Regions from separate parts of the Homo sapiens genome. Here regions 1 and 2 are each linked to region 3. Evidence: fine-mapped QTL for protein levels in blood plasma. A gene starts in region 3. Each other region holds a variant in brackets. All regions are shown on one strand. Distances are from middle to middle.

Region 1 (7,629 bases), 22 kb before region 3:
CTGCCCGTCAGGCGCAGGGCCCCCACAGGCCGCTCACCAGACCCTTTCCCTCCAGCCAGCTCGGGGTCAGCCTGGGCCAGGGCTGTCTCCTCTGCCCTCGGCAGCAGCAGGCTTGTGGTCTTGCCTGCAGTGTCTCTGCCCTTCCGGCCACATGGCTTGAGACTGAGGCAGGAGAATCGCTTGAACCTTGGAGGCAGAGGCTGCAGTGAGCCAGGATCACACCACTGCATTCCAGCCTGGGTGACAAAGCGGGATTCTGTGTCAAAAAAAAAAATGTTGACTGGGCGCGCTAGCTCATGCCTATAATCCCAGCACTTTGGGAGGCTGAGGTGGGCGGATCACGAGGTCAAGAGATCAAGACCATCCTGGCCAACATAGTGAAACACCGTCTCTACTAAAAATACAAAAAAATTAGCTGGGCGTGGTGGCGTGTGCCTATAGTCCCAGCTACTCAGGAGGCTGAGGCAGGAGAATCACTCGAACCCAGGAGGTAGAGGTTGCAATGAGCCAAGATCACACCACTGTACTCCAGCCTGGTGACAGAGCAAGACTCCGTCTCAAAAAAAATAAAATCAAAAAGAATAATTGGCAATTCCAGTGAAATAATTGTTTGTTTGTTTGTTGAGACAGGGTCTCCTTCTGTCGTCCAGGCTGGAGTTCAGTGGTATGATCTTGGCCCACTGCAACCTCCACCTCCTGGGCTCAAGCCATCCTCCCACCTCAGCCTCCCGAGTAGCCGGGACTACAGGTGCACACCACCACGCCCGGCTAATTTTTGTATTTTTTGTAGAGGCGGGGTTTCCCAGCGTTGCCCAGGCTGGTCTTGAACCCCTGAGCTCAAGTGATCTGCCCACCTTGGCCTCCCAAAGTGCTGGGATTACAGGTGTGAGCCACCGCGCCCGGCCTGAAACAATCGTTTCTAAATATTGGTGTGGGCCACACAGTCATGTTTGGACCTACTTGTGGCCTTTTACAGACCCCAGGCCAAGGCTTTGGGAACTTGGCTGTCAGCCTCCTGTGCCTTCTGCACCCCCACCCCATTTCTGCTTTCTGGAACCCCCGATCCTGTCCTGTTCTGTGGTGATTCGGGTGTGCTTGGGCTCTAGGAGAAGATGTGTGAAGAATCGGCATCCTTTGACCTGACTCCCCATGACCTGGCTTCAGGACTGGACGTCATAGACCAGGTGCTGGAGGAGCAGACCAAGGCAGCGCAGCAGGGTGAGCCCCACCCGGAGTTCAGCGCGGACTCCCCCAGCCCAGGTGCGTTCATAGCCAGACTGCTTGGTCCTGAGGCCTGCGCTGCTGCAGGGTGAGCCCCACCCGGAGTTCAGCACGGACTCCCCCAGCCCAGGTGCGTTCATAGCCAGGCTGCTTGGTCCTGAGGCCCGTGCTACTGCAGTGGGCAGCCTGCCCTGTGGCTGTGTGTGGTCGGCCTGGGCACCATCTATTCAGGCTGGCACTGCAGGGCATCCGCTTCTCTCAGAGGCTTCTTGGGTGTGAATTCTTCAGGGTCCTGTAGCCTGTGGAAGGGCTGGTATTGTTCAGTAGTTCTGGTATTTTCCAAAGACCTATGTCTTCTCCCAGCCAGTATCAACTTGGCCTCTACTGTGTAAAACTGGAAAACTCTACTTTGTGAAGCTGAGTTGGGAGCATCGCTTGAGGCCAGGAGTTTGAGACCAGCCTGGGCAACATGGCGGAACCTCGCCCCTGCCAAAAAATTAGCCAGGTGTGGTGGTGTGCTCCTGTGGTCCAAGCTTTTCCGGAGGCCGAAGTGGGAGGCGTGCTTGAGCCTGGGAGGCAGAGCTTCCGGTGCCCCAGATGACTCCACTGCACTCCAGCCTGGGCGGCAGAGTGAGGCCATCTCAAAAAAAAAAAAAAGGAAAACTAAATATATTCACTGTAAGGGCATTTTGCATCTTTAAATGACCCACAAATCTGGCATGCATCAGCTGCTCTGCCTGTAGGTTCCTTCCCAGTGTTTGTCCAGAGGTGTATTTCCACACAGCGCTAGTCACGGCATACGTGGAAAACGTGGAAACCCTTCATGGATGTTGTCAGTTGGTCTATATTTTCTTTCTTTTTTTTTTTTTTGAGATGGAGTTTCACTTTTGTTGCCCAGGCTGGAGTGCAATGGCGCGATCTTGGCTCACTGCAACCTCCGCCTCCTGGGTTCAAGCAATTCTCCTGCCTCAGCCTCCCAAGTAGCTGGGATCACAGGCGTGCACCACCACGCCCAGCTAATTTTGTATTTTTAGTAGAGATGGTTTCTCCGTGTTGGCCAGGCTGGTCTCGAACTCCTGACCTCACGTGATCCACCCGCTTCGGCCTCCCAAAGTGCTGGGATTACAGGCGTGAGCCGCCACGCCCGGCCTTTGTCCATATTTTCTACATGGCTTCTGTAAACAGCTGACTAGGAGTCTGTGTGAATATCTTCATAGGTTCTGCTGTGACACTACTTGCTCGTGAGCATCTCCAGGTGTAAACAGCATCAGCTTCCCCCATTTTCCTTTAAAATCGCACATGTGGACGGACACCACGGGGACCCTGGACCCTGGGGAGCCCCGTCCTCACCCTTCTCACCAGGATGGCTGCTTGGTAGAGAGTGAGTTTGCAAAGTTGGCATTTGTTTAGTACAGAAGTTATCAGGTGTTCTGGCTTTAGAATCCCTTTATATATATATATATATAC[A/G]TATATTTAAGTGACAGGGTCTCACTCTGTTGCCCAGGCTGGAATGTGGTGGTACAATCAAAGTTCCCTGTAGCCTCGGCCTCCTGGGCTCATGGGATCTTCCCGTCTCAGCGTCTTAAAGCGCCGGGACCACAGGTGTGCACCACTGCCACCGGCTCTCAAGATTGCCACGCAGGGAGTTGCAGTGGGGGAAGGGGTTCCTGGGACTTTGAACGCTCCACCTCCCTCCTCTCCACAGTCCCCCAACCCCACCTCTCTAACGGGGTGGACGGCCGCCTCTTTCCATCCTTCGCTTGGCGCAGGGTGGGGAGAGTGACAGGTCTCCTTCCCTCATCTCGGCAGCTGCCATTTCATCGCTTACATAACGTGGGAGAAACATCCACCCACCCCCAGGCCTGTGTGAACATCACCACGGGGCCTTCTCCACTCTTCAGTTTTGTTAGTTACTTGATGTGCAGGGCTTTTTGTTGTAACTAGTGGGGGACGTGTGGTGGGGTGGGCTTCTGCCATCTCATTCAGGACCAGAACTTCAGTTTTCATCCCTATCTGTTCCCCCACCCCTTTGGAGATGGGGTCTCACTCTGTCACCCAGGCTGGAGAGCGGTGGTGCCATCACGGCTCACTGCAGCCTCCACCTCCTGCAGCCTCCACCTCTTGGGCTCAAGTGATCCTCCTGCCTCGGCCTCCCAAGCTCCTGGGACTACAGGCGTGTGCCACTGTGCTTGGCAGGGTCCATTCTTTTCCTCACACTTTATTTATTGAAGAGCCCAGGCCGTTTACCCTGCAGAGTCGGAATCTGTACAGGAGGGGCAGCCACACGAGTTCCCCGGTTTACTCTGAACTTAGGTGGCTTGAGGGCCCCAGTTAGACTGCGGCCACCGTTTGCCGGGCTCCAGATGGGACGTCCTTTCTATCAGAAGGCTCACAGTATCTCCTTTCCCGTTTCTTCCCATGTGAACATTGTTGCTGCTGAACACCTGAATATGTTAATCACTGGGGGCTTGCAAGATGGCAGTGTGCTAATTCCATCATCTAGTCAGTTAGCAGGAATAACTTAGGACCACGCCCTGCACCATATCAGCTATGTGGTGATCCCATTCACACAGGAAAGGTGGGACAAATGCTGGGGGTGGGCCGGGTGTGCTGTCTCACACCTGTCATCCCAGCACTTTGGGAGGCCCAGGCAGGCGGATCACGAGGTCAGAGATTGAGACCATCCTGGCCAACACGGTGAAACCCCGTCTCTACTAAAAATACAAAAAAATTAGCCAGGTGTGGTGGTGCATGCTTGTAATCCCAGCTACTTGGGAGGCTGAGGCAGGAGAATCACTTGAACCCAGGAGGCGGAGGTTGCAGTGAGCCGAGATCGCACCATTGCACTCCAGCCTGGCGACAGAGCGAGACTCCGTCTCAAAAATCAATCAGTCAATCAAGTGTCATCACTGAATGTTTGTGTGTGAACGTGGGGATTGGTCCTGCCCCATGCTCCCTCCTGAATCTCACTCCTGACCTCAGTTGCTGCACCTTGAGGTGTTTTCATGTGGGCTCTTGTGTCCTGACCCCGGCGGTTGTGGCCTCTTTGCTGTCTGGGAGTCAGGATTTTTCACACTCATGTCCTGCTCCAGACCTGGAATCAGCCAAGTCTCCAAGAAGCCCTGCTTTCTTTTCCTGCAAGACGGTATTTCAAGACCCGCCATGCGGCAGCGGGTTGGTCATGGTTACTGGGTTGGTCGTTGTTACTGGGTGTTTTCGTGGAGATACAGCCATACGCACAGGTGTGTTCACAAATGTTAATTCTAAAGGTCAAACACCCGGCCAGGCATAAGGGCTCAGCGGTAATCCCAGCACTTTGGGAGACCAAGACTGGTGGATCACCTGAGGTCAGGAGTTTAAGACCAGCCTGAGCAACAGGGTGAAACCCCATCTCTACTAAAAATGCGAAAATTAGCCGGGCATGGTGGCGCACACCTATAGTCCCAGCTAGTCGGGAGACAGACACGAGAATTGCTTGAACCTGGGACATGGAGGTTGCAGTGAGCAGAGATGGCGCTGCTGCACCCCTGCCTGGGTGACAGAGTGACACCCTGTCTCAAAAATGAATAGATAAATAAAGATAAAACACCTGCTCCTCTTGGTGTCTCCAGTTTGGATTTGGCCTGTGTAGCCTCTTCCTTCGCCTGTTGGTGGATTTGGCCTGCACGGATTCTGTGTGGCCTCTTCCTTCCCCTGTTGGTGGATTTGGCCTGCACGGATTCTGTGTGGCCTCTTCCTTCCCCTGTTGGTGGATTTGGCCTGCACGGATTCTGTGTGGCCTCTTCCTTCCCCTGTTGGTGGATTTGGCCTGCACGGATTCTGTGTGGCCTCTTCCTTCCCCTGTTGGTGGATTTGGCCTGCACGGATTCTGTGTGGCCTCTTCCTTCCCCTGTTGGTGGATTTGGCCTGCACGGATTCTGTGTGGCCTCTTCCTTCCCATGTTGGTGGATTTGGCCTGCATGGATTCTGTGTGGCCTCTTCCTTTCCATGTTGGTGTCCTTTTTTCCATGCCAGGAATCCTGGTTCTCAAGGGCGGGGTTGTTGGCACGAGCGTGATGCAGACTGCCTTTGCTGCCTTTCTCTTGCCCAGGGCTGAACATGGAGCTGGAAGACATTGCAAAGCTGAAGAGTAAGTGTTGCCCTCCCCGCCTCCTTGCAGCTGGGTGGGGCCTCCTCCTTGCGAGGAGGTGGGTGACACCTCCTCGACCCACAGTGATCCTGCTGCGCCTGGAGGGGGCCATCGATGCTGTTGAGCTGCCTGGAGACGACAGCGGTGTCACCAAGCCAGGGAGGTGAGAGGCGGGGAGCCAGCCCCTTCACTGCAGGCCCAGCCTAGAGCTAGAAACGGGCCATGGTGCAGTCCTGGGCTGTCACATCACGAGTGAGGCCTGTTTTCAGGCCTGTTTTCCCTTTTTGAGACCTGGGAGGAGCACCTGCTTTGCATGATCTGGTTGCTGAGATGTTGAGAGGAGCAGCACACACTCCCACGGGACAGCACACAGCCCCCCACGGAACGGCACACACACCCATGGAACAGCACACACACTCCCACGAACAGCACACACACTCCCACGAACAGCACACACACTCCCACGGAACAGCACACACACCCACGGAACGGCACACACACCCACGGAACAGCACACACACTCCCACGGAACAGCACACACACCCACGGAACGGCACACACTCCCACGGAACGGCACACTCTCCCACGGAACAGCACACTCTCCCACGGAACAGCACACACACTCCCACGGAACAGCACACACACCCACGGAACGGCACACACTCCCACGGAACAGCAGACTCTCCCACGGAACAGCACACACACTCCCACAGACAGCACACACACACCCACGGAACAGCACACTCTCCCACGCGGGGCCGCTGGGTTTCCTGCAGTTTCTCCTCCTCCAGGCCTTTCCCTGGACCCTGGTCCAGTCCGTCATTTGAGCACAGGTGCCTGTTAGAACGAGACCTTCTTGTTAGGACGATGAGTGTCCCAGCCACCACCTCTTTTGGACTCCGGGAGGCCTGGAACGTTCTGAACGCTCCGTGGGGCTCCAGTCTTCTCCGCAGCCAGGGCAGCAGGGTTTGCTGTCTGTCCTGCAGGCAGATGAGGAGTCAGGGCTGGGGCCTGTGTGGGGGCTCTCCTGAGCGCACAGCCGCCGAGGTGGAGCGTGTTCTGCCTGAGCGCCGACCTGGTCGGGGGAATCCCAGTTGCTTCCAGGTGGAGCCACTGTCCTCAGCGTAATGCTCAAGGCTCTGGCCTGGCTCCTCGGCCACCCTGCACCCTCAGGGTCCCCTCCTGTAGCTTCTGCTGCCCCATCACTGTCACTCTCCAAAGCTTTGGGGACTCTGCCCAGAGCCACCGCCTCCCAGAAGCCCCTGACAACCTCTTGACGACCCCCTAGTGACCCCATCCCTCCCCTCTGACGGCGGCCCCTGCTCTGAGGCGGCTTCTTTTCCTCGGTGCTGTTCTCGTGCTGGCCAGGCCTCCTCTCCCCACCTGGAGGCTCCTGAGGGCGGAGGCCTCTCACCTCCAATGCTGGCGTCCCCTGGAGGGCTGAATTTGTTTCCGAGGGAAGGAAACTTCCACAGTTGTTGCCTTCAGTTCCAAAGCTGCAGCCTGATTTCCCCCTCCAGGCTCGAGCCTGTTTTCTTCTCGGCAGCTACATCTTTGACCAGTGTCGTCCCCCCTCAGGCCCGAGCCTGCCTTCTTCTCCTCAGTTCCCAAAGCTGCAGTCTGGTCCCCCCGCCAGGCTCGAGCCTGCCTTCTTCTCCTCGGCAGCTACATCTTTGAGCTGTTTGCTGAAGCCCAGATCACGTTTCAGACCAAGGGCTGCATCCTGGACTCGCTGGACCAGATCATCCAGCACCTGGCAGGACGTGAGTGCTGGCACGGGGTCTTTGGTGCGGGCAAATGTGGCGTAGGGGGTGCAGCAGGCCTCCATCTTGGCAGTCAGGGCTCCCCTGGCCGTCACCTGGCCGTCAGCAGGAACAGGCCCACAGAACCTCATCTTCTGATCGGGGCGTGGAGGCGTTAGTGCCACTTGCCAGCTGCCGTAGAGCCTGTCCCAGTTCTGCAGCTGGCGGCTTCGTCCTACAGCCTCATCCCATTATTCTGCTTTTGAGAAAGAGCAGCCCAAGGCCCTAGCTGGCTTGTGGGGCCTCTGGCTTCTCCACACCACCCCGAGTTCTGCTTCTCAGAGTTGTGGGGTCCAGAGGCTTTGCCCAGAGGCGGTGTCCCCATGGGCTGCTCTGGTTTGAGACGCCGGGCCCAGCGGGGTCTCTCCTCTGCTGCGCTCCCGGGTGCTGGGGAGGGTGGCTTTTGCTGCTTCAACCCTTAGGCGACCATAGAGCCTCTTTTCAAGTCCCACTGACCCCCTTGGAGACTCTGTCCCT
Region 2 (4,542 bases), 44 kb after region 3:
CTGCGGGCCGAGGCGCCGTGGCTGCGCGCGGAGGGTCCGGGGCCGCGCGCCGCGCCCGTGACGGTGCCCACGCCGCCGCAGGTACCGGGCGCCGGTGGGCGGGGGCGCCGACCAAGTTTCTCTCGCTGCAAAGATGGCGTCAGTGCTGCCCAAACTTCGGGCCCCCGGGGGCGGGGCAGCGGGGAGGGCGGCCGCGTCGGTCCGCGCGTGTCCGTGGGTCCCGCCGGGGCTGCGCCGGGCGGCCGGGGAGCCCTTCCCGCCGCGCCGGGCTGGGGGCGGGGCCGGGGGCGGGGCCGCGCCGTCCACACCGGCCGCAGCCGGTTTTCGAGGCGGGCGCCGAGCGGATCCGCGGCGGAGGTTGAGGGACCCCCCTCCCCCGGCCACCGCCTCCGCTGAGTCTGCCCCCTCCCCATCCGCAGGGCTCTTCCGTGGGCGGCGGCTTCGCGGGCTTGGAGTTCGCGCGGCCGCAGGAGTCGGAGCCGCGGGCCTCGGACCTGGGGGCCCCCCGGACGTGGACGGGGGCGGCGGCGGGGCCCCGGACTCCGTCGGCGCACATCCCCGTCCCAGCGCAGAGGTGAGCGGGAGGCCCGGTGCCTCGGGACTCGGTGTGCGCAGGGGCGGTGGGTGGGGTGCGGAGACACCGGCCCCGACGGAGGCCAGGTCAGGGCCCCAGGTTTGTAATTACCAGCCACCCCCAAGCTCTTCAGCCCTGGAGGAGCTGAGCAGAAATGATCGATGACTGGGAGTCCCTACACCTCCCTCCACCGCAGTTCCTCGGGGCTAGAGCTCAGAACCCGGAGCGGGTGGCTGTGCGTCTCTGTGCAGAAGAGGCTGCGCGGTCGGCATGGGGCGACTGTCCAGGAATCCCTGGGGCTCCTGACCGCCACCTCCCAACCCCTGCCAGGCCGGACACCTCGGTCTGGCTGCCAGGGCAGGGGCGGGCCCTGGCCTGGCTCGCTGGGGCCTGGGGAGCTGCCCGTGCTTCCAGCCCAGTCTCCCCCTGGCTGCTGCCGGCTGCTGGCCACTCCCACCTCCCAGGCCTGGCGTGAGGCCCACAGCTGCTGTTGCACAACCCTGGTTAATGTGTGATGGGGGGAGGCCTGGGCCTGGCCCGCCCCTCTGCCAGGGCTTCAGACCCCTGCCCAGCCCCAGTATCTGAAGGAACCACAGTGGAGCCAAGCCCGCGATGTGGAGAACTCAGGCTTCAGGAGACCCTGGCCCTGCTCCTGGCGGCTCCGGGTGGCTTTCAGCTCTCTCTGCAACCTGAGCTGGGGGAGGAGCCAGGCCTCATGCCCAGGGCTGGGAGTGGGGAGCCTGGTGTGCACGCGTGCCCAGGCCTGCACGTGGACCGACCAGGGGAGGGGCCCAGAGCTCTGGCTGGGTCACCCGCACCCCGCCCCCATCTCCTCCAGAGCCACCCCAGGAAAAGCCCGGCTGGACGAGGTCATGGCTGCCGCTGCCCTTACAAGCCTGTCCACCAGCCCTCTCCTTCTGGGGGCCCCGGTTGCAGCCTTCAGCCCAGGTAAGACTCAGATGTCTGCATTTAGGGGTGTGGGTGGGGACAGGGCTCAGAACCTACAGCCACCCAGCCTCTGTGGGGCAAGCAGAGCCCTCAAACCTGGGACTCCTTTCTAAAATGGACTCCCGCACCCTCAGTGCCCCCTACTGAGGCCAAAGCGGCAGGACCCAGGCCTTCTGGCCTCCCTGACCTGCTCACCTCCACGCGGCTGGCCACACACGTCTGCCAACCCTTTCCTGTGCCGGGGGGGTTTCTCCCCAAGCCCTGGGGCCAGCTCCTCCAAGACGCTCTGCCCACCAGTCTCACCGGACTTGGTGAACAGGGGCAGCTCAGGATTAGGGACTCCCTGGACCCACCCGAAGTTCTAAGGCGGGGGGCCCGTGTCCCCACAGAGCCTGGCCTGGAGCCCTGGAAGGAGGCCCTGGTGCGGCCCCCAGGCAGCTACAGCAGCAGCAGCAACAGTGGAGACTGGGGATGGGACCTGGCCAGTGACCAGTCCTCTCCGTCCACCCCGTCACCCCCACTGCCCCCCGAGGCAGCCCACTTTCTGTTTGGGGAGCCCACCCTGAGAAAAAGGAAGGTGAGCTTGGGGGCGGCCCCCAGGGAGGGGCGGGTGTGGCGGCTGAGCCTGACCCTGGCCCCTGTTGCTGCAGAGCCCGGCCCAGGTCATGTTCCAGTGTCTGTGGAAGAGCTGCGGGAAGGTGCTGAGCACGGCGTCGGCGATGCAGAGACACATCCGCCTGGTGCACCTGGGGTGCGGCGGGGCCTGGGGTGCGGCGGGGCCTGCGGGTTGGCTGGGGTTGTGAGGCCCGGCCAGGCCACCCCTTCAGCTCCCACTGGCTGGCTGTGTCTCCCGCAGGAGGCAGGCAGAGCCTGAGCAGAGTGATGGTGAGGAGGACTTCTACTACACAGAGCTGGATGTTGGTGTGGACACGCTGACCGACGGGCTGTCCAGCCTGACTCCAGTGTCCCCCACGGCCTCCATGCCGCCTGCCTTCCCCCGCCTGGAGCTGCCAGAGCTGCTGGAGCCCCCAGCCCTGCCTAGTCCCCTGCGGCCGCCTGCCCCGCCCCTGCCCCCGCCCCCTGTCCTGAGCACCGTTGCTAACCCCCAGTCCTGTCACAGTGACCGTGTCTACCAGGTGGGTGAGGCCACGGGTGGCAGCTGGGGCGGGTCTCAGGGCTCTCTGGAGGGGAGTGAAGCCCTGGCTGTGTCTCCCTGTAGGGCTGCCTGACGCCCGCCCGCCTGGAGCCGCAGCCCACGGAGGTCGGAGCCTGCCCACCCGCCTTGTCCTCCAGGATCGGAGTCACCCTGAGGTGCGTGTGGGCTGAGGGCCTGCGGCTGGCACCAGGTGGGGAGGGTCCTGGTCTCACAGCACCCCATGTCCTGTGACCCCCCGCACAGGAAGCCCCGCGGCGACGCGAAGAAGTGCCGGAAGGTGTATGGCATGGAGCGCCGGGACCTCTGGTGCACAGCCTGCCGCTGGAAGAAAGCCTGCCAGCGGTTCCTGGACTAAGTCCGGCTCGTTCAAGAACATAAGCTACCACCTTCTCCCTCCCCACCCCCTCCAGGCCCGGGGCTGAAACAGCCCGAGGACAGCCCCAGGGGCTGGCTTTCACCAGCTGCAGGGTCTGCTTTTACTTGGGGTGGGGGGGCGGGGCTGACCCTGAACCCTCCCCCCCGCCAGGTCGGGGAGGGGTCCCACCACTCAAAGTGCCTCTAAAGAAACCAGCTTTTTGCACTAAAGCCAAACCACACCGCTGTCCCCTTAGCCCCAAGGGCCCTGGGGGCAGCCACCCTCCCGCCTGTCGGCCCGTAGATTTATCAAGGGTGTTATGGGCCCAGCTTTGGGGGGCCAGTCCCGATGCACTTTGAGGGGTGTTGGAGAGGGGACTCCCCCACTCGCACTTAACTCAACGGCTCTCGGGCCCTGGGGCTGTTTTTACCATGTTTGTTTTTGAAGCTCAGGTGTCTCACGTCTGGGCT[G/A]CACCAGGCGAAGAGAGAAATTAAAGATTTGAGGTTTTTCCAGAAGCTTTGTCTGCCTCTCGGGAGGAAGGCCGTGGGGCTGGGACCCTGTGGTGGGCAAGTGGGTGGAGTCTGGCAGCTGCCCACAGAGGGCCGAGGGTCACCCGTCGGCCGCCGCCACCCCAGGCGAGGCCGGAGGAAGGATCATCTGAGACGCAGGAGGCATCTGCTGGAGCAGCAATTTCCCAATTTATTGAAAGTGATCGCTTTGCAAGGATGTCTAAGCTAATCCCGTCACAGAAAGGAAACGCACAGGCGCCTAGGCAGAAACTTGGAGACTCACCGCAGAGGCCACGTGAACCCACGGCCACAGAGAGGCAGGACGGCAGAGCCATGATTTCCCACCGAGCGATTACGAGAACCTCTTCCCCCAATAGTAGACACATCTCCAATACAAACACAGGTTTATAATAAGTAATAGGAAGTCAATATAATATAGATTATCCCCAGAAAAAAATCAACAATCTTCAAACACTGCCCTTTTTTTGTGTGTTTTGTTTTTGTTGACAGGTTGAAAGCATGTTGAAAAAAATAAATATTTAAGAAAAGCACACACAGCACCCTCACTACAAGTAGTTCTAAAAGGGCTGCATACAAAACACAATATAAGATCTAAAAAAAACCACCACCATTAAGTATGGCTTTCTTAAGAGTCGCACATGTCACAGAATGAGCTAAAATAAGATTACTTCTTTTATAATATTGCAAAAAGTTCCAGTTTTTGCATTTTCTCAGTTTTTTAAAGAGGAAGATGTGCAAAGTTGGAAGCAGTAAGCTGCGTCTTCTGAGTCAGTTCCCTACGTAGCCCTGGCAGTGTCCTGTGTCCCAAAGCTCAGAGAGCCCCAGTGTACAACCTGGTCAGGATCCAGAGCTTGACAGAAAAATCGTGGTGTCCCTGCCCCCTCCCCGCCCCCAAATAACACCATCCCCAATGGACTGTATTTCCCACTTTGGTGTTGTAAACACCAAAATACAAACAGACACAAACAAAAATACAAAA
Region 3 (6,071 bases):
GGTCCCAGCCAGTCCTCAGGACCTCCCCACGGGCCTGCAGCATCTGAGTGGGGTGAGCCTCATGGGAGAGACATCGCTGGGCAGCAGGCCACGGGAGCTCCGGGCGGGCCCCTCTCAGCAGGCTGTGTGTGCCAGGGCTGTGGGGCAGAGGACGTGGTGCCCTTCCAGTGCCCTGCCTGTGACTTCCAGCGCTGCCAAGCCTGCTGGCAACGGCACCTTCAGGTTGGTGCCTGGCCACTACAGTTCCTGCTGGGTGTAGCCCCAGGTGATGGGCTGAGGGGGAAAGGGCAGGCCCTTGTCCTGGTGGCAACGCCTGGCAGACGTGTGCAGTGGGCCGGTTGTCTCACAGGCCTCTAGGATGTGCCCAGCCTGCCACACCGCCTCCAGGAAGCAGAGCGTCATGCAGGTCTTCTGGCCAGAGCCCCAGTGAGTGCCCACGGAGGCCCCCAGCACACCCAACGTGGCTTGATCACCTGCCTGTCCAGCTCTGGTGGGCCAAGAACCCACCCAACAGAATAGGCCAGCCCATGCCAGCCGGCTTGGCCCGCTGCAGGCCTCAGGCAGGCGGGGCCCATGGTTGGTCCCTGCGGTGGGACCGGATCTGGGCCTGCCTCTGAGAAGCCCTGAGCTACCTTGGGGTCTGGGGTGGGTTTCTGGGAAAGTGCTTCCCCAGAACTTCCCTGGCTCCTGGCCTGTGAGTGGTGCCACAGGGGCACCCCAGCTGAGCCCCTCACCGGGAAGGAGGAGACCCCCGTGGGCACGTGTCCACTTTTAATCAGGGGACAGGGCTCTCTAATAAAGCTGCTGGCAGTGCCCAGGACGGTGTCTTCGTGGCCTGGGCTTGGTGGTGGGAGTTGAGGGACAGGGAGTTGGCAGAGGCCCCTCCCAGCCTGCCATGTGACACTGTACTTCCTCCACGGTGGGCTCAGCCCTGCCCTCATCCTCACAGCCGCAGCCAAGCTGCAGTTGGTAGGGGATCCACCGACACACCAGGCTGCCTGGGCTGGTCTCTGGGTTGGGAGCTGCCCCAGGTGCTGAGGAGGGCAGCTCCCTGGCTGGTGAGGCCCCTCCCAGAACCACCCTTGGACTGAGCTCTGGGGAGGGATGGTACCAGGTGGGTGAGGGGGGCTGCCTGGGGAGGGAGGGGTTCCTATGGGGCGTGGCGAGGCTGGCCCAGCCCTCTCCCCGCCCATATATGTAGGGCAGCAGCAGGATGGGCTTCTGGACTTGGGCGGCCCCTCCGCAGGCGGACCGGGGGCAAAGGAGGTGGCATGTCGGTCAGGCACAGCAGGGTCCTGTGTCCGCGCTGAGCCGCGCTCTCCCTGCTCCAGCAAGGACCATGAGGGCGCTGGAGGGGCCAGGCCTGTCGCTGCTGTGCCTGGTGTTGGCGCTGCCTGCCCTGCTGCCGGTGCCGGCTGTACGCGGAGTGGCAGAAACACCCACCTACCCCTGGCGGGACGCAGAGACAGGGGAGCGGCTGGTGTGCGCCCAGTGCCCCCCAGGCACCTTTGTGCAGCGGCCGTGCCGCCGAGACAGCCCCACGACGTGTGGCCCGTGTCCACCGCGCCACTACACGCAGTTCTGGAACTACCTAGAGCGCTGCCGCTACTGCAACGTCCTCTGCGGGGAGCGTGAGGAGGAGGCACGGGCTTGCCACGCCACCCACAACCGTGCCTGCCGCTGCCGCACCGGCTTCTTCGCGCACGCTGGTTTCTGCTTGGAGCACGCATCGTGTCCACCTGGTGCCGGCGTGATTGCCCCGGGTGAGAGCTGGGCGAGGGGAGGGGCCCCCAGGAGTGGTGGCCGGAGGTGTGGCAGGGGTCAGGTTGCTGGTCCCAGCCTTGCACCCTGAGCTAGGACACCAGTTCCCCTGACCCTGTTCTTCCCTCCTGGCTGCAGGCACCCCCAGCCAGAACACGCAGTGCCAGCCGTGCCCCCCAGGCACCTTCTCAGCCAGCAGCTCCAGCTCAGAGCAGTGCCAGCCCCACCGCAACTGCACGGCCCTGGGCCTGGCCCTCAATGTGCCAGGCTCTTCCTCCCATGACACCCTGTGCACCAGCTGCACTGGCTTCCCCCTCAGCACCAGGGTACCAGGTGAGCCAGAGGCCTGAGGGGGCAGCACACTGCAGGCCAGGCCCACTTGTGCCCTCACTCCTGCCCCTGCACGTGCATCTAGCCTGAGGCATGCCAGCTGGCTCTGGGAAGGGGCCACAGTGGATTTGAGGGGTCAGGGGTCCCTCCACTAGATCCCCACCAAGTCTGCCCTCTCAGGGGTGGCTGAGAATTTGGATCTGAGCCAGGGCACAGCCTCCCCTGGGGAGCTCTGGGAAAGTGGGCAGCAATCTCCTAACTGCCCGAGGGGAAGGTGGCTGGCTCCTCTGACACGGGGAAACCGAGGCCTGATGGTAACTCTCCTAACTGCCTGAGAGGAAGGTGGCTGCCTCCTCTGACATGGGGAAACCGAGGCCCAATGTTAACCACTGTTGAGAAGTCACAGGGGGAAGTGACCCCCTTAACATCAAGTCAGGTCCGGTCCATCTGCAGGTCCCAACTCGCCCCTTCCGATGGCCCAGGAGCCCCAAGCCCTTGCCTGGGCCCCCTTGCCTCTTGCAGCCAAGGTCCGAGTGGCCGCTCCTGCCCCCTAGGCCTTTGCTCCAGCTCTCTGACCGAAGGCTCCTGCCCCTTCTCCAGTCCCCATCGTTGCACTGCCCTCTCCAGCACGGCTCACTGCACAGGGATTTCTCTCTCCTGCAAACCCCCCGAGTGGGGCCCAGAAAGCAGGGTACCTGGCAGCCCCCGCCAGTGTGTGTGGGTGAAATGATCGGACCGCTGCCTCCCCACCCCACTGCAGGAGCTGAGGAGTGTGAGCGTGCCGTCATCGACTTTGTGGCTTTCCAGGACATCTCCATCAAGAGGCTGCAGCGGCTGCTGCAGGCCCTCGAGGCCCCGGAGGGCTGGGGTCCGACACCAAGGGCGGGCCGCGCGGCCTTGCAGCTGAAGCTGCGTCGGCGGCTCACGGAGCTCCTGGGGGCGCAGGACGGGGCGCTGCTGGTGCGGCTGCTGCAGGCGCTGCGCGTGGCCAGGATGCCCGGGCTGGAGCGGAGCGTCCGTGAGCGCTTCCTCCCTGTGCACTGATCCTGGCCCCCTCTTATTTATTCTACATCCTTGGCACCCCACTTGCACTGAAAGAGGCTTTTTTTTAAATAGAAGAAATGAGGTTTCTTAAAGCTTATTTTTATAAAGCTTTTTCATAAAACTGGTTGTAGTTGCACAGCTACTGGGAGGGCAGCCGGGGACACCTGAGCCGCCCGCTGTGCCCAGATCCCTCAGGCTGCCTGCCATCAGAACTGCTGCCCGGGGCTTCCCCTACCTCAGACAGACCCTCCCTGGGAGGATCAGTGGGGAGTGCCACCTCTGCCCCCAGTGGCTGTGGCACGTGGCAGGGGCCCCTGAAGCTCAGCGAGGGTCAGGGCCTGGGAGGGTATCATTGCTGGAAGAACAGGATGGGGCTCAGGCCAGCCCTAGTCGCCGGGGCCCACACTAACCCCCCACTTATGAATTCCTCCCACTCCCAACTCACAGGGGATTTCCCGAGAGGGGACCTGCCAAAGACCTCCTCCAGGCCTCCCATGCTTTCCGGGAAGTGAAGCTTCTCCCTCTCTGGGGCAGGCTCTGAAGCCTCCCGATGCACCCAGAGCAACCGGGGGGCTGCACCAGCCACTCGCCTCCCCAGCACGGCCAGGTTCCCGGGGCTGGAGGTCCCCCCCAGGTCCTGGGAACCAACCTGCAGAACACACACAGGGTCCCCTGGAGAGGACGCGGGGACTTCCAGGGCCCGACTCCTGTGAGTCACAGCCCCGCAGCTGCTGCGCCACCCCCACCCTGACTCATGCCCCTTCCCAGCAGCTCCTCCCAGGACCCCATGTCCTTCCCACATCCGCAGGAAGGGAGTGCCTGGACTCTCCAGGCCCACCTGGGGAGCCCCTCACCTGCCCACCAGCCCCTGAGCAGCCCAGTAACACCATCACCGTGTCCAACAGCCAGGAGCCTCCACCCTCCAGGAGGGAAGGGATGGACAGAGCCACACTCGCCGTCTTTATTTTGCACTCACCCTGGGTGACACTGGGCAGGCCGCTCCTGCCCACAGCCAGACTGAGGAAGAACACAGCACTCGGCAGGCCCAGTGGGGTCCGTGCAGGGAGGACCCCAGGACCAGCCTTACTCCCGAGCAGGGGACACAGGGCCCCACAGAGAACCCCTCCGGGAGGTTCTCTCCTGGCTGGGGGAGGGCTCTGGACCCCCACAAACACTCCCCAACTTGCGGGGCTGGGGCATAAAAACAGCCACTCCCAGCAGGCCCCCTCAGCTTTTTGCATCAGTCAGCTCCCTCCCGGGGGATTAGGGTGAGGTGAAGCCAGGCCCAGGCGTGGGGTATAGGTCTTCCCCCGCAGGCCTCAGCCCTGTCCCGAGGCTGCATCACAATCCAGGGCCCCCGCTGGCCTTTGGGAACATGGCCTGGGTCTTCCTCAAGGCAAGATCAGCCCCAGACCACTTCCGGGGTCACGGGGTCACGGGGTCACAGGGCAGAAGCCAGATGGCAGCCATGGCTGACGGGCCTCCTCCTCGATGGGGCGGAGACAGCCACGGGGTCTCCCGAGGGTCCCACAGGGCTGTCCTCATGCAGCCCAAGCCAGCCTGAGCACTGGAGCCCCAATTCCCAACCAGGTCTCCCTCAGACCCCCCAGAAAGGGCCTCGAAAGGCCGCCGCTGCGCCCTGTGGAAAGGCTGCCGCTGCAGGGCCTGGGCCAGCCGGGCTGCCAGACTCCCCTCCAAAGCCTCCGGATGCCTACGCTTTTCCAGACATAGAGGAAAGTTTGTCTTCGAGAAAACAAAGTAAATAGAAGAACCCCAAAGCAAAGCAAACCCACCCCCCAGATCAGCAGCATGGGAGCCAACAGGAGGCCACTCCTCCAGCACCAGGGGACCAGCCGTCCCGACGGCAGCGCGGCTGCGCCTACGTGATGTCCCTCTGCCGCGGCGGCCGGTGCACATTCCGCACGACACACTTCACCATCCACTCGATGCCCTCGCGCACCCCTTTGCTGTGAAGACAGCGGGTGTGAGGCGGGGGGTCTCGGTCCCCAAAGCCCCCGCAGGTGCAGCCCCCACTCACCCTGTGAGGGCCGAGCAGGCCTGGGTCAGGCAATCTCGCCTGCCGATCTTGCTGGTGCAGTCGCTGAAGGCCGTCTTGATGTCAGGGATTGAGAGGCACGTCTGGGGGAGGTAAGGCCGTGAGGAGCAGCCCCCACGTCTGGCCCTGTCCTGCCTGTGGGCCCGGGACTCTCAGAAGGGCGTATGCCCTTCACCCCAGGGAAACAGCCAGAGCTCCACCAGGGTCCCAGTGTCTCCCACAGAGACCACAGCAGTGAGGACCCTGTGCTCAGCCCGAGGCTGAACATGGCTGGTAGTGCCTGAGACAAACTAGACGTCCACACGGCTCCAAGGAGTCCACCCCCCATCCCCTCCCTGGGGGACACCCTGAGCCCCGAGGTGGGGCGCTGAGGACTGAGGCCTCCTGGGCAGTGGCGGAGGCAGGTCCCAGGGGCCCACACAGCCGGGGATGATGGAGAGGTGGGAGCCCTGCATCAGTGATGGAGGCAGTCTGCAGTCATGGTGGCTTCTGCTCACAACCACCTGCCCAGTCTTCAAAAAGCAGCCCTCCCCTCCCCTTTTCCTCCGAGGGGAGACCCCTGCCCCGTACCAGATGTCCCTCTTGTCGGCTGAGATTGTAGGGGAGGCCAGCCTTACAGGCTGGGGGCAACAGAGCCACCCCAGAGAAGGCAGGAAGTGAAGATTCACCTGGCCCTCTGGACGCCGGGCTGCTTCTGTGCAAAGCCACTCCAAGAGAACAGCTAGAACTCAGCGTGGCCAGTGCTCCCGGGGGCAGTGGCACCTCAGAGGGGTCTTGAGGGGCTGCCCTGGGGGTGGGGCTGGCACAGATGCCACCTCCAAGGGTAGCAGGAACAGGTAAGGGTCAGAGCTGACTCCCACCAGGGCCCCAGCATCACTTC

Direction of the effects. Positions count from the first base shown, and alleles are read on the strand shown. Strength reflects both the effect of a copy and how common the allele is.
In carriers of allele G in region 1, the plasma level of the protein whose gene starts at base 1,224 in region 3 tends to be higher than with A alone (moderate association).
With allele G in place of A in region 2, the plasma level of the protein whose gene starts at base 1,224 in region 3 is lower (moderate association).

The links. PIP is the posterior inclusion probability: the model's chance that the variant is causal. Protein levels are from antibody-based Olink assays in UK Biobank. Linkage for the fine-mapping came from a reference panel and not from the study's own genotypes, which makes the PIPs less certain.
Region 1: its variant is fine-mapped to the plasma level of the TNFRSF6B protein (UK Biobank, PIP above 0.99).
Region 2: its variant is fine-mapped to the plasma level of the TNFRSF6B protein (UK Biobank, PIP above 0.99).

What each region holds. Positions count from the first base shown.
Region 1 is chr20:63,672,834-63,680,462 of GRCh38, forward strand. It overlaps RTEL1 (regulator of telomere elongation helicase 1), which reads left to right. Exons shown (of 35, transcript NM_001283009.2): 10 at 1,107-1,260; 11 at 5,312-5,350; 12 at 5,435-5,513; 13 at 7,016-7,113. RTEL1-TNFRSF6B (RTEL1-TNFRSF6B readthrough (NMD candidate)) reads left to right here. Exons shown (of 38, transcript NR_037882.1): 10 at 1,107-1,260; 11 at 5,312-5,350; 12 at 5,435-5,513; 13 at 7,016-7,113. It overlaps LOC124904954 (a long non-coding RNA gene), which reads right to left and starts at 5,542. Exons shown (of 2, transcript XR_007067717.1): 1 at 4,811-5,542. RefSeq lists an enhancer at 3,680-3,824 and a cis regulatory region at 3,752. The variant A/G (reference allele first, on the strand shown) is at 2,689.
Region 2 is chr20:63,739,958-63,744,499 of GRCh38, forward strand. It overlaps SLC2A4RG (SLC2A4 regulator), which reads left to right. Exons shown (of 8, transcript NM_020062.4): 1 at 1-81; 2 at 420-574; 3 at 1,413-1,522; 4 at 1,912-2,099; 5 at 2,173-2,273; 6 at 2,379-2,658; 7 at 2,742-2,833; 8 at 2,922-4,093. The coding sequence ends at 3,033. ZBTB46 (zinc finger and BTB domain containing 46) reads right to left here. Exons shown (of 5, transcript NM_001369741.1): 5 at 3,713-4,542. It overlaps ZBTB46-AS2 (ZBTB46 antisense RNA 2), which reads left to right and starts at 3,868. Exons shown (of 3, transcript NR_186425.1): 1 at 3,868-4,542. RefSeq lists silencers at 77-226, 237-936. The variant G/A (reference allele first, on the strand shown) is at 3,504.
Region 3 is chr20:63,695,429-63,701,499 of GRCh38, forward strand. It overlaps TNFRSF6B (TNF receptor superfamily member 6b), which reads left to right and starts at 1,224. Exons shown (of 3, transcript NM_003823.4): 1 at 1,224-1,763; 2 at 1,900-2,094; 3 at 2,852-3,256. The coding sequence starts at 1,340. The coding sequence ends at 3,135. RTEL1 (regulator of telomere elongation helicase 1) reads left to right here. Exons shown (of 35, transcript NM_001283009.2): 34 at 1-222; 35 at 350-817. The coding sequence ends at 430. ARFRP1 (ARF related protein 1) reads right to left here. Exons shown (of 8, transcript NM_001267547.3): 7 at 5,174-5,274; 8 at 3,219-5,102. The coding sequence ends at 5,015. It overlaps RTEL1-TNFRSF6B (RTEL1-TNFRSF6B readthrough (NMD candidate)), which reads left to right. Exons shown (of 38, transcript NR_037882.1): 34 at 1-222; 35 at 350-426; 36 at 1,332-1,763; 37 at 1,900-2,094; 38 at 2,852-3,270. RefSeq lists enhancers at 519-568, 2,329-2,378, 3,474-3,523, 3,764-3,943, 4,014-4,063 and 2 more.